2 separate regions of the Homo sapiens genome follow, and region 2 is linked to region 1. Evidence: fine-mapped expression QTL. Tissue or cell type: whole blood. Region 1 holds a variant in brackets; the other region holds the start of a gene. All regions are shown on one strand. Distances are from middle to middle.

Region 1 (7,553 bases):
CCTCAACCCATGGGGCCCAGGGTTTCCAAGACAGGTTCTGTGCGGCAGGGCTCTCATGTCAACTCCGTTCTAGAAACCGGACAAGTGAAGAGCGTGGGGATTCCTTGCTGCAATGCTCTCCGGAGCCATGGGAATTCTGGGTGGACCTTGGGTGGGTGGCCGGTCGTTGTCCCTCCCCCCAGCACCTCTGGCCTCTGAGAAAAGGGCTCCTGCTTCTGGGGGCTGCCCTTGACGCCCCCCTCCTAGGGCCTCCGGGCCCCTCCTGCCCCACCCTCTCCCTCGGCTGCCTCCTGTCTGGCTGGTGGGGGTGGCAGCTTTTCCCCAAGGCCCCATGAGGAGGGCGAGAGATCAGGCGTGGCAGGCAGCAGGTCAGGGGCAGCATCTGTCCCAAGCGAGGGCTGGGGGGCCTTGGCCTGGCCTGGGCTTCCCACTGCTGGGTAGGGTGCCTCCACCTGCCCGTGCCTCAGTTTCTTCAGCTGTGAGGTGGGTGACAGACGCTGCCCCAGGTGTGAGCACAGGCGAAGGCTGGGCAATGCCTGACGCCACAGCCCCAGGCTCGCCTGAAGGATGCGCCGCTGCTCTGGGGGAGGAGGAGCCTCGCCCCGCTCTATGGACGATCCTGGTTTATGCAGACAGAGCTGTATCCCAACAGGACAGTGGGAACTATCTAGAAGCTTCTGCAGAGCCGCTGCCAGCTCCGGACATGCATGGTGGCTGTGAGCTGCCCCTCTAGCAGGCTGGCCCACCAGGCTCTGCGGTCCCCACCATGAAATTCTTGACTCCATCTCAATCTGAGCTTTGTGGGTGAGGGCACGGGGCCCCTGGTGGGTCTGGCCTCCAGCCGTTCGCCTAGCCCACATCACCTGCGCCACCTGCCCCCCAACCCTCTAACTTGAGACGAGACCCAAGGTCAGGACTTGGCCGGCGACCAGGGGTTTATCTTAGCTCTGCTTTTCACACAGTGTCGTCAGGGGAGCAGGGGCCTGGGAGCGCCAGGGTGATGCCACGGAGGCCCAGCTCCTTCATGGGACTAACAAGGCCCATTCTTGCCAGGCAGGACCCACAGTCACAGGATTTTTACAGCTGAGGAAGTGCTTAGATACCTGCAGGGGCCACTCCTACAACAGCCGACAGTCCTGGCATCCCCACACCCACGACAGCATGTGCCTTCTAGGTCACCAGAGTTAGGCTTCCATAGGCTACACACTGAAATGTCCAGGACAGTTTTCTTTAAATCATAGAGTAATACATTTTTTTTTTTTGAGACAGAGTTTTGCTCTGTCGCCCAGGCTGGAGTGCAGCGGTGTGATCTTGGCTCACTGCAACCTCCGCCTCCTGGGTTCAAGTGATTCTCCTTGCCTCAGCCTCCCGAGTAGCTAGGATCATAGGCGCGTGCCACCACGCCAGGCTAATTTTTGTGTCTTTAGTAGAGATGGGGTTTCACCACGTTGGCCAGGCTGGTCACGAACTCTGGACCTCAGGTGATCCACCCGTCTCAGCCTCCCAGAGTGCTGGGATAACAGGCATGAGCCACCGCACTCAGCCCCTAGAGTAATAAATTCTGTCACACTATTGGCCCACCCACAGGTAGCACAGCTTAGTGTTTACGTAGACAAGACCCTGATATGAGAAAAACGGAAAACAGAGCTGGGCACGCCTATGCTGGCCTTCCGAGGGCTCCACCTCTGTCACTGGGCACCTTTCAGTGACCCTCCCTCACCACACTTGGCCTTGAATTCTTTCCTGTGTGAGACCCAAGAACCTTCTCGTGGGGTCCGAATTGAGACGGCATTTCTAGCAACAGAGTGAAATCCTGAAAGAACCGAAACCCCTCCTCGTGCCACAAGCAAGACACACACACACACACACACACAGCCTCAGGTGCGGCGCACACGGGTAGCATGGGGGCTGGGGGCCACGTGTTCGTGACCCTGAACACGGGAGCAGCGTCCCTCAGCGGCCGCTCTGGCGTGCAGGGCCCAACCCCACGTGGCTGTTTCTGCAGCTCCTCTTGGAGGCCCGGGCTGCTTCCCCTTTGACCAACCTGGGAAGGCCCTTGGCGGACGCTGCACAGGCCGACGTGGTGGCCACCAGAGCTGCCCTGGACCCTCTGAGGACAGACTGGCCAGGACTTACCTCTGCCAGCCGGTCAGGATGATGCCCTGCAGTGAGTCCGTGGGCCCGCTGCCCGCCACCTGCAGCCACTGCACGTGGTTCCTGAGGTGGTGCTCAACAGGGGGCACGGCCTGGCTGGGCCCCGTGGCACCCTTGAAGGCACTGGCTGCCCACAGCTGCGGAAAGCCGCACCGCCGGTACTTCTGCATGAGGAGGACTGGGTGAGAAAGCAAACAGGTGAGTGGCTCCAGGGGAGGCGGCCAACACGGCCCTGGACACGCCTCCCGGGGCTGTACCCAGAGCCAACATGGGAGCCGCCTGAGACAGCCAGGCCCGGGTCTCAGTGTAGGAGACTCCAGAGTGTATGCGGCCGGCCCGGGTCCCAGTCGGGGAGACTCCAGAGTGTACGTGGCCCCTGGTTCACCTGCTCACTAGGAAAACACTGGTGGAACAGGGAGGGAGGTGAGGCACCGGTGCACGGTGGCCGTCCCGAGGCACCATGGGCTGGGGTCTGCTGGGGCTGTGCCCTGGCCTCTACCCGTGCAGGCTCCAGGCTGGGCAGTTCCGGCTGCAGGGTCACAGGGCCAGGGATGGCCTTCCCAGGCACATGGCCAGGACAACACACCCCCCACAACTTGGCACTGACCCTTGCCGTGCACATCCAGGTCGGCCGTGTAGTCCCAGAGCACCGGCTCCACCAGCTGCGGCACCCCGGACGCTGCAGACAGAGCGGACGTGAGGTTGGTGAGACACCTGGACCACACTCTCAGCCCCTCGGACCCACCTGTTCTCGTTTTGCTTGAAAGTGTGAGCACAGATACCTTTTTAAGACAGACTTGGCACCGTGCTGGGTTTTGACAATGAATGCCACAACCACACACAGTGCCTTTCCAAGCCAGCGCCCGCTGGAGCGACCATGCTCCCACTGCTGCTCTACCAGGCCATGAGCCACAGGCACAGCTGGAGCACGCGGCTGAATGGAGGTCACTCTAAGTCATCTATGTGGCCATGCATGGGTGGAAGCTGCCAGGCCGGCACGGCCCTAGGACACCCTGGCTCCCAGCTCTGCTATGGAGCTCACTGAGCCTCGGGGCTCTGTGTGGAACCAGGCCAGGTGTCTGAGTACCACCTCTTGGCCCAGAAAGGCGCTCAGCAGCTCGTCCCAAAGCCTCAGGCAGAGCGAGCAGGGCCCAGGGGCTGGAGGAGCAGCCAGCGGGAACCTCGGCCCCCAGTCCCAGCAGGGATGGCCTTGGAGGAGGCTGCTGCGAGTGCTGGACACTCCCAAGCCCTCTGGGCCACCAGGCAGGCCTGTGCTCTCCTGCCCAAACCTCCACAGCTTCTAGGGAAACGACTCAGGCCTGGCGTCAAGGGGATGCAGGAGGTGGTTGTGGCGGGTCTGTGCGGGGCTGGGGCTCACCCTGGGGCCCACTTCCTACAGCA[C/G]CTTCTTTCTTTGAAGCCGCAGGTCTTGGGCAGTTCAGTGGCCCACCCCCTCCCCCAGCCCTGTTGGCCGACCTGCGAGCTGGTCCTCAGGCAGGTCTCGGAGCATGTCGTCCCACACCAGGGGTGTCACGCTGGGGCGCCGGGCCTTCACGCCGCTGGCCACCGCCCGCATGTGTGACAGGCACAACTTCCCCGTGCTGTTCTGCTCTTGCTGTAGCCACCGGCGCGAGGCCTCCCCCTCTCCGAGGTAATAGACCTGCAAGGAAGGAGCAGGACGGGGTTGCCTTGGCAGCCGTGCACACCGGTGGGAGGGTCCGGGGTTCACGCCGTGCCCTGACGGAGAGGGGCCGCTGCCTGTGGGGAGGAGGCCAGGGAGGGGCTCGGAGCCTTTGCTTACCACCCCCAGCGTGTCCCTGTCTTCCTCACTGAGCCCTGAACTTCTACTCAAGGTTTCCTGTGAATGTTCACAGCAGCTCTTCTCACAGCCAACAAAGCAGAGACCACAGGGGTCCATCCCCCATGATGGACCAGCATAGGGCAGCATCCCCCACCATGAACACGGCTCGGCTTCAGCAGACAGCCAAGCTCTGGCAGCTGACAGCCCGGAGGAGCACAGGTCATACACTGTGTGACTCGGTACCCGTGGAATGCCCAGACGGGCAAATCCACCGAGATAGGAAGCAGACCGTGGTCGCCGGGGCCTGGGGGCAGGTGCGGGGCTTGCCCTGGGGTGATTGCCCACACCATGAATGTCTGGAAGAGGTGCTGACGTTTATACTTATTTATTTATTTTGGAGACAGGGTCTTGCTCTGTTGCCCAGGCTGGAGTGCAGTGGCACAATCTCAATCTCGGCTCACTGCAACCTCCACCTCCTGGGTTCAAGTGATTCTCCTGCCTCAGTCTCCTGAGTAGCTGGGATTACAGGCGCCCACCACCACACCTGGCTAATTTTGTATTTTTAGTAGAGACGGGGTTTCACCATGTTGGCCAGGCTGATCTTGAACTCCTGATCTCAGGTGGTCCACCTGCCTCAGCCTCCCAAAGTGCTGGGATCACAAGTGTGAGCCACCGTGCCTGGCCTATTTATTTATTTACTTATTTATTTAGAGCCGGAGTCTCACTCTGTTGCCCAGGCTGGTATGCAGTGGCGTGATCTCAGCTCACTGCAACCTTCACCTCCTGGGTTCAAGCGATTCTCGTGCCTCAGCCTCCTGAGTAGCTGGGATTACAGGCGCCCGCCATCACGCCCGGCTGATTTTTGTATATTTAGTAGAGACGGGGTTTCACCACATTGGCCAAACTGGTCTCAAACACCTGACCTCAGGTGATCCACCCACTTTGGTCTCCCAAAGTGCTGGGATTACAGGCGTGAGCCACCACACCCAGCCTATATTTTAAAATGGTTAGAATGGTAAAGCTTAAGTGTATTTTACATACTCAGGTTTCCTTCAAAAAAAGGAAACTTCTGGGGCTAAAATGTTCAGCTCGGGTTCCCTGTGAGCCACAGCCCTGCAGAACCTCCCAGCCCCGTGGGCACCAACCCCGCCCCTTTCAGTTCCACATCCTGCCCAGGCCCTGACTGAGTTGGAGTCCAGTGAGTGGCAGGAGGGGCAAGGGTGGGGGCTCACTGGGTTGGAGGGGGCACATCTCTGGCACCCCCTGGGGACCACCTTTTCCATTGGGTGCTTCAGGGTCCAAATGCAGAACTTCCTCTCAGCAACAAAAGGGTGTCCCTCGAGTTACACCCTGACTTATGCTCACTGCTGGTCCTGGGGCGTGAACCTGCCCATCACCCACAGGCTTCCGCCAGCCCAGCCGCCCGGGGTGGTCTCGTCTGACACGAGGGTGCCTCCCTCGGGCTCTGCAGGCTGTCCCGTGCCAGGCCGCCCATCCACCCGGAGAAGATGTTGGACGCGTCTGACACGAGGGTGCCTCCCTCGGGCTCCGCAGGCTGTCCCGTGCCAGGCCGCCCATCCACTCGGAGAAGATGTTGGATGGGGTGCCCTGAGGGGAACAACAAGCCTGTCTCTAGGCCTCAGTGCCTGGAAGATTTTCCTATTTAAAAGGACAAGCCATGATAGGGGAGAGTGTCCTGCACAGAGCTGGGGTGACAGTACCCACCTCATCACACCCGATGTGCAGCCGCTGGGCGCCTGGGTGTAGCTCCAGGACCTGGTCAATCATGGCGCCCACCAGCGCCAGGGACTCTGCCTCGTGGGGGTTCAGGGTGCAGGGGAAGGAGCCCACCTCCCGCAGGTGGGCGAAGGCCGTGTGCTTCAGCACAAACTGCGGAGAGACAGAGAAGTTCGCGTTGGGGGCGGAGGAGCTGGACTGATCTCCTTCTGCCCACCTGGGGCTTCTGTTTCAAATCTACAGATAATACAAAAAAATTAGGCCAGGCAGAGAGTCTCAGTCCTGTAATCCCAGCACCTTGTGGGGGCTGAGGTGGGTAGAATGTTTGAACTCAGGAATTTGAGACCAGCCTGGACAACTGGTGAAACCCCATGGAATCTCGCTTTGTTGCCCAGGCTGGAGTGCAGTGGCACAGTCTCGGCTCACTGCAACCTCTGCCTCCCAGGTTCAAGTGATCCTCCCGCCTCAGCCTTCCCAGTAGCTGGGGATTACAGGCATGTGCCACCACGCCTGGCTAATTTTTGTATTTTTAGTAGAGATGGCGTTTCACTATGTTGGCCAGGCTGGTCTTGAACTCCTGACCACAAGTGATTCGCCTTCCTTGGCCTCCCAAAGTGCTGGGATTACAGGCGTGAACCACCACGCCCAGACTAAAAATATATATATAAAAAAAAAAAAAAAATATATATATATATATATATATATATATATATATATATTTTTTTTTTTTTTTCTTTTTTTTTTTGAGATGGAGTCTTGCTCTGCCGCCCAGTCTGGAGTGCAGTGGCATGATCTCGGCTCACTACAAGCTCTGCCTCCCAGGTTCACACCATTCTCCTGCCTCAGCCTCCCGAGTAGCTGGGACTACAGGCGCCCGCCACCACGCCCGGCTAATTTTTGTATTTTGTTTTAGTAGAGACGGGGTTTCACCGTGTTAGCCAGGATGGTCTCGATCTCCTGACCTTGTGATCTGCCCGCCTTGGCCTCCCAAAGTGCTGGGATTACAGGCGTGAGCCACTGCACCCAGCCATAAATTTTTTAAAAACCAAATCGGTTTAAGAAAAAAAAGTGGCCAGGTGTGGTGGCACCTGCCTGTGGTCCAGCTACTTGGGAGGCTGAAGCGGGAAGATCACTGGAGCCTAGGAAGTTGAGGCTGTAGTGAGCCATGATCACACCACTGCACTCCAGCCTGGGCGACAGAGTGAGACCCTGTCTCTGAAAAGAAAAAAACAGAAAAATGTTTATCTATGAAAGACCACTCTAACTTTGCCTAAGAACAGAGACTCTGTGGCCTCGGCCTAGGGCTACTCACTGCCCCCTTCCCCCTCACTGTGGAAACCACAGCTTTGCTGCCAAAGGGGCAGACTTAACTTGAGGCTGGGTTAAAAACCCACCCCTTGTGGGGGCGCTGTCAGTAGAAGCAGCAACTGGAGAAGAGGCCCTGTCTTCCGCTTGCCAGAGGGTGCAGTCCCTGCTGGGGAGAGCCAAGACTGGCTGCAGATTTAATGGGTGACCCTGGAAACAGAAAGCCAGATGGTGCTGCACACTCTCCTCAGGCCTGGCTGACGGGGGCCACACACACGTGCAGGGACCTGTGAGGGCCAGGTGGGAACTGCGCGAACCTAGGGATGCACCCCCCACCGCCCACACACAGCCCCGTGGCAAGGGGAGGAGGTCTGTGGGCTCAAGGTGTGGGAGCACAACCTCTGCCCAAACCCTTGGCTGACCACCAACTATGAAGACAGAGGGATGACCCTAGGAAGCCAGGCTAAAATGTAAAAATAAGAACCAAAAAATCTCAGCACAGACATCAGTGAGTGCACACAGCCAGGGGCAGGTCCTGCAGGTTAAATGCAGGCCATTT
Region 2 (6,039 bases), 23 kb before region 1:
GCACACAGGGCAACCGGGAGAACACCTGTCAGATTAAACATGTCAGGACTACTAAACTTAAGGAAAAAATATGCTTCTGCCATATTGCCAACTCTCCATTTATAAACTGGTACTAGTACTTTCTAAGGGTAGACTGACCTTAACCTCTCCCAACACCCTTCACTCAGTAAAACAGGGATAATGGCCAGGCTTACATGTAATGTTCCTTCTGGGCGTGAAATGAGACTGCATGTAAAATGACATTCTTTTTTTTGAGACGGAGTCTCACTCTGTCGCCCCAGCTGGAGTGCAGTGGCGTGATCTCGGCTCACCTCAACCTCCGCCTCCCGGGTTCAAGCAATTCTCCTGCCTCAGGCTCCTGAGTAGCTGGGATTACAGGCATGCACCACCACGCCCAGCTAATTTTGTATTTTTAGTAGAGATGGGGTTTATCTATGTTGGTCAGGCTGATCTTGAACTCCTGACCTCAGGTAATCCACCCACCTCGGCCTCCCAAAGTGTTGGGATTACAGGTGTGAGCCACCATGCCTGGCTGTAAAATCACATTCTTGAGAGCCAGGCTCAGGTTATGTATCCAATAAACAGAGACCATAGCTACTAGCTAAGGAGAATTTAAAAACAAGAACTGAATTAGAAGAGAGGCCAGGTGCAGTGGCTCACGCCTGTAATCCCAGCACTTTGGGAGGCTGAGGCAGGAGGATCACTTGAGCCCAGGAGGTCAAGACCAATCTGGGCAACATAGTGGAACTCCATTTCTACCAAAAAATAAAAATAAAAATAAATTAGCTGAGCATGGTGGTGCATACCTGTAGTCCCAGCTACTAGGGAGGCTGAGGCAGGAGAATCACTTGAGCCTCAGAGGTCAAGGCTGCGGTGAGCCATACAGTGAGCCACTGCACTCCAGCCTGGGTGACAGTGAGACCCTGTCTCAAAAGGGGAAAAAAAAAATTAAAAGAAGAAATCCAGTATTACACCACGTTTTCTTTGTTCCCAATGCAGTGTGTTTTGGTGTAGTGTGTTCTGAGAAGACAGGCCTTGTGCCACTGATGGACTGTCTCACACATGTCTTTATTAGCCCCTTCAAGTTTATTTCAGTCTCGGAGACGGAGTCTTACTCTGTTGCCCAGGCTGGAGTGCAGTGGCGCGATCTTGCCTCACTGCAAGTTCCGCCTCCCAGGTTCACGCCTTTCTCCTGGCTCAGCCTCCCGAGTAGCTGGGACTACAGGCGCCCCCCACCACGCCCGGCTAATTTTTTGCATTTTTAGTAGAGATGAGGTTTCACTGTGTTAGCCAGGATAGTCTCAATCTCCTGATCTCATGATCCGCCTGCCTCGGCCTCCCAAAGTTCTGGGATTACAGGCATGAGCCACCACGCCTGGCCTATTTCAGTCTTTTTTTTGGGACAGAGTCTCACTCTGTTGCCCAGGCTGAAGTACAGTGGTACAATCTCAGCTCACTGCAACCTCTGTCTTCCAGGGTCAAGCAATTCTCCTGCCTCAGCCTCCTGAGTAGCTGGGATTACAGGCGTACACCACCATACCTGGATAATTTTTGTATTTTTAGCAGAGATAAGGTTTCACCATGTTGGCCAGGCTGGTCTCAAACTCCTGACCTCAAGTGATCCGTCCACCTCGGCCTCCCAAAGTGCTGGGATTCCAGGCGTGAGCCACCATGCCCGCGTACTTCAGTCTTCTTTAAAGCAGTGATGTGCACGGTGCTGTGAGCCCCCAAAGAGAAAAACAGCAGCAGTAGTTTACTCTGGGCTGATACAAAACTGAAAAATCTACTTGCCTCTCCATTTTCCTGGGCTGGACTCGGTGCATCGGCTGACACATTCTCTTGGTCATCAGTTTTTGTTTTCTTACTACATTCCTTAAAAAAGCAAAGGAACATTATCAATGAACTTTTACTTCGTCTCCCTTAAGAAAATGTGCACATTCTGACCAATGAAGCTCATGTATTTCTATCCTTTCTTTTAGTTTATTTATTTATTTTTTTAGACGGAGTCTCGCTCTCACCCAGGCTGGAGTGCAGGGGCGCAATCTCGGCTCACTGCAGCCTCCACCTCCCGGGTTCAAGCGATTCTCCTGCCTCGGCCTTCTGAGTAGCTGGGATTACAGGTGTGCGCCACCACACCCAGCTAATTTTATATTTTTAGTAGAGACTGGGTTTCGCCATGTTGGCCACGATGGTCTTGAACTGCTGACCTCAGGTGATCCACCCGCCTCGGCCTCCCCTCCCAAGGTGCTGGGATAACAGGCTTGAGCCACCGTGCCTGGCCTTCTATCCTTCTAACCCTTCTAGTGAAACAGGTACTGAAGGACACACACACATCTCTATTGTTTACAATAATAAAAAAGCAGAAGCAACTGTAGCCTTCACCCCACAGGCGAATTCCCCTGGACACAGGTGTACTTAGAATAGGACGCAGCCACCACCGGGGATGAACGACCCATGGAATGTTAGGAAGCCTCCTGCCACGGCGTCACGCGCAGAAGTGCCAGCCACAGAGCAGCATCCACAGGAGCCCATTCCGGCAATAACAGCTACAAAACCCCCCTGCGTGCGCTGCGCGGTTGTTGCCATGGCCTGGAGACAACCGCGGAAGGCGCCGGTCAGCAGCCGTCACCCGCTTCCGCCCCTGCACCGGCTGCTCGGTGACCCTCAGAGGGGCAGGTTCGAAAACGCCTAAAACCCTCTCGAAACGCTTCTGATCATTCCCGCCACGACCGCTGTTTACTCGGACTGTGGTGCGCGGCACGAGAGGCTCGGTCTCCGTGCGTTTCCGCGCTTCGCGGGCGTGGGAAAGATGGACAAGTTCAGGGAGAACCGCGAAGACCGAACCCGCCCTGCAGAGCGCAGCGGACCCCGCGCCGGCCGCCTCCACGCCGAGCGGGCCCAGGGTGCCGAGGCCGGGGGCGCCTTGAAGAGCCCTGAAGCGAGCGAGCGGCGGGCCCGGACCGCCAACCTCGGCCGCCCAGAGCCCCACAGGACAAGCACCAGGCGCGCGCCTCCCCGGCCCGCGGCGCTCACCTTGCGCGTGCAGTGCTCACACTTCATCTGGAGCGCGGCGGGCGGGAGGCCGGGCGCCTCAGCCTCAGGGAAGCACCGGGAGACTGGGACACCACTGCCCGCCGCCCGCGGCCCTTTGTTGTCCTCCCCCGACGCGGCCTCACCCCCAACGGCCGCGCTCGGCCAATGAGAGCACCGGGAGAGGACAAGCCGCACCCCTGGGCCAATAGGATTCCCCACCCTTACGGCTTTGCCTAGGCCAATGACAGTGTCGGGAAGGGGCGGGCCAGGCCCCAGAGCCAATCGGAGCGCGCGGGGCGGACCGCAGGCTCACTCCACGTACGGCGCCGGGGGGACCGGGTCCTTGCGCCGGTTTCCGCTTCTCGTGGGTCCTGCGGCGGCGGCGGCGGCCAAGCGGCGTTCACCAGGGAGTCGGTGAGCGCGCGGACTGTCCCGAGGCCAAGCTGGGGCCGTTCCAGGGTGCTCGGTCCGGTGGTCACGGGGCCTGGAGGCCCCTGGGCCCGCGGAGGCCGCGGCCGGGCTCTGTCAGCCAGCTCGGCGTTGGACACTCGCCTTACTCGCGGCTCCTAACGGGGCGGGCCGGGGGCACAGCCCTCGTCCGCCGCCATTGCCACTTGACGTCGTGTCACGTAGGCTCGGCGGAGTAGCAGCGCGCATGCGCGGCCTGCCTGTCAGTAACCACGTGATGGACCCGGAAGCCCGAGGGCAGATGCTAAATGATGGCCATTTGACATTTGCGTGTGTTCACTATGGATAGTTTTACCAAGTACATTGATTTGGGCCCTTACAGCTTACAAAGTAAAGATAACACTTACTCCTCCAAGAAATTGATTTCAGCTAAGCAAAACATTGATACAGGGCTATAATGGAAGTGTTGGACTCATAAACGTTTTATGAAATCAGTGTGTGTGTATTACAGAAATCAGAAATGAGAAGTAAGAACATGTCTGGGAGAGTGTGACATAAGAAAAATAACTTGTAGGCGTATTTAACAGACAGCAGCAGTTCTCAGGATTCCCCATGTTAGAGCCTTCCTTCCTGTCCTCTGAGAAATGAAAATGAAATCCAAAGACCCCCAACTGACTACACGAACCCCCTACTGGCTAAGGAGATCCCAGGGTTGCCTTGAAGGCAGTTCTCAGCCATGACAGATGGGAGGTGAGACACCTGTTATTAAGGCCAACCCTTGGCTAACTACCATTAGGTTTTCTTGGCTAAGAGCTTAACGGAAACCAGCGCTTTCGAAAGACTCCACCGCTGATAACAACTCTCTCATTTGCAGTTTCGGCCCAATTGACCAGTATTCCTTACTGATAAGAGACACTGACCATGGAGTGGTTCTGGTGAGATGACATGACCCTCGTGAAGGGGCCTGAAGCTTCATTGTGTTTGTGTATGTTTCTCTCTTCAAAAATATTCATGACTTCTCCTGTAGCTTGATAAATATGTATATTTACACACTGCACCTCATAGATTCCTGTTCCCTTTGCCCCTCCCTGGAAGTGTCTGTTTCTGGCTTCTGGCCAGAGGCAGTGCTTCCCTGTCTGTCAGAATGGCCACCCTGCAGGCTGAAACCCTTTATGAGAAGTAAAGCTCTCCTTTCCAGATTTATGAATCTCATCATTCTTCAGCTTGCCATTGCCCATCGGGTTCTTCCTGCCCACTGCACAGACAAAAAGTCAATTCATCAAGATTGCAGCAGGCCGGGAAAAGAGTTTAATTGACACCTGGCAGGCCACACAGGAGACAGTTACTACTCAAATCAGTCTCTCCAAAGGCTCAGCAGTTAGGAGTTTGTTTTTTGTTTTTTTGTTTTTGTTTTTGAGACGGAGTCTCACTCTGTCACCCAGGTTGGAGTGCAGTGGCACAATCTCGGCTCACTACAACCTCCACCTCCCAGGTTCAAGCGATTCTCCTACCTCAGCCTCCTAAGTAGCTGGGACGACAGGCACACGCCACCACGCCTGGCTAATTTTTGTATTTTTTAGTAGAGATGGGGTTTCACCATAATGGCCAGGCTGGTCTTGAACTCCTGACCTTGTGATCCGCCTGCCTCGGCCTCCCAAAGTGCTGGGATTACAGGCATGAGCCACCACGCCTGGCCGCAGTTAGGGTTTTTATGGACAATTTGGTGGGCAGGGGGCTAGGGAATGGATGCTGCTGATTGACTGGGAATGAAATCAAAAGGGTGTGTGGAAAACGGTCCTCAAGCACTGAGTCTGCCTCTGGGTGGGGCCACAGAAACCAATTGAGTCCTGAGTAGCAGGTTGGGGTGGGTTCACTCTGAAAAACATCTCAAAAAGCCATTCTTAGGTCCTGCAATACTGATATTATCTATAGGTGCAATTCGGGAAGTTGCAAATTTTGTGACCTCTGGCCACATGAGTCCTGAGCAGTGAGGGACTGTAGAAACTAGGCCTGCATTTTAGCAGAGTTCAGGCCACTCCCACAATCCTAACCTTGTGGCCTTTCATTAGCTTTACAAAGGCAATTTCAGCCCCAGAAGTGGGAGGTGATAGTTTTAGGAAGGGACTATTATCATCCTTGTTTCAAGGTTAAACTGTAAATTCCTCCCAAAGCTCCTAAAATTAGCTTGGCTTATGCCCAGGAACAACTGGACAGCTTGGATGTCCAAAGGAAGACGGAATTAACTGTGTGAAATTTCTCTGTCTTTTTTTTTTGAGACAGGGTCTCACTCTGTCACCCAGGCTGGAGTGCAGTGGCGTGATCACAGCTCACTGCAGCCTCAACCTCCTTGGATCAAGTAATCCTTCCACCTCAGCCCCGCGGGGTAGCTGGGACTACAGGCTCACACCACTGTGCATGGCTAAGTTTTAAATTTTTTGTAGATACAGGGTCTCCCCATGTTGCCCAGGCTGTTCTTGAATTCCTGGGCCCAAGTGATCCATCTCAGCCTCCCAAAGTGCTGGGATTACAGGTGTGAGCCACTGCACCCAGCCTCTATCACTGCCTTAATCTTTGCAAAGGCAGTTTCAAGTTGACACT

The links. PIP is the estimated chance that this variant, and not a neighbour inherited with it, causes the effect.
Region 2: NARF starts here. The variant in region 1 is fine-mapped to the expression of NARF in whole blood (TOPMed, PIP 0.97).

What each region holds. Positions count from the first base shown.
Region 1 is chr17:82,431,947-82,439,499 of GRCh38, reverse strand. HEXD (hexosaminidase D) reads right to left here. Exons shown (of 13, transcript NM_001330542.2): 5 at 5,678-5,842; 6 at 3,628-3,811; 7 at 2,762-2,833; 8 at 2,137-2,332. Among named protein-coding and RNA genes, the nearest start is that of HEXD-IT1, 10 kb to the right of the region's middle. RefSeq lists an enhancer at 1-499. The variant C/G (reference allele first, on the strand shown) is at 3,556.
Region 2 is chr17:82,455,825-82,461,863 of GRCh38, reverse strand. It overlaps NARF (nuclear prelamin A recognition factor), which reads right to left and starts at 3,123. Exons shown (of 11, transcript NM_012336.4): 1 at 3,034-3,123; 2 at 1,792-1,872. The coding sequence starts at 3,060. It overlaps NARF-AS2 (NARF antisense RNA 2), which reads left to right and starts at 3,345. Exons shown (of 3, transcript NR_184099.1): 1 at 3,345-4,191; 2 at 4,316-4,426. RefSeq lists enhancers at 2,369-3,201, 3,635-3,784 and a silencer at 2,785-3,604.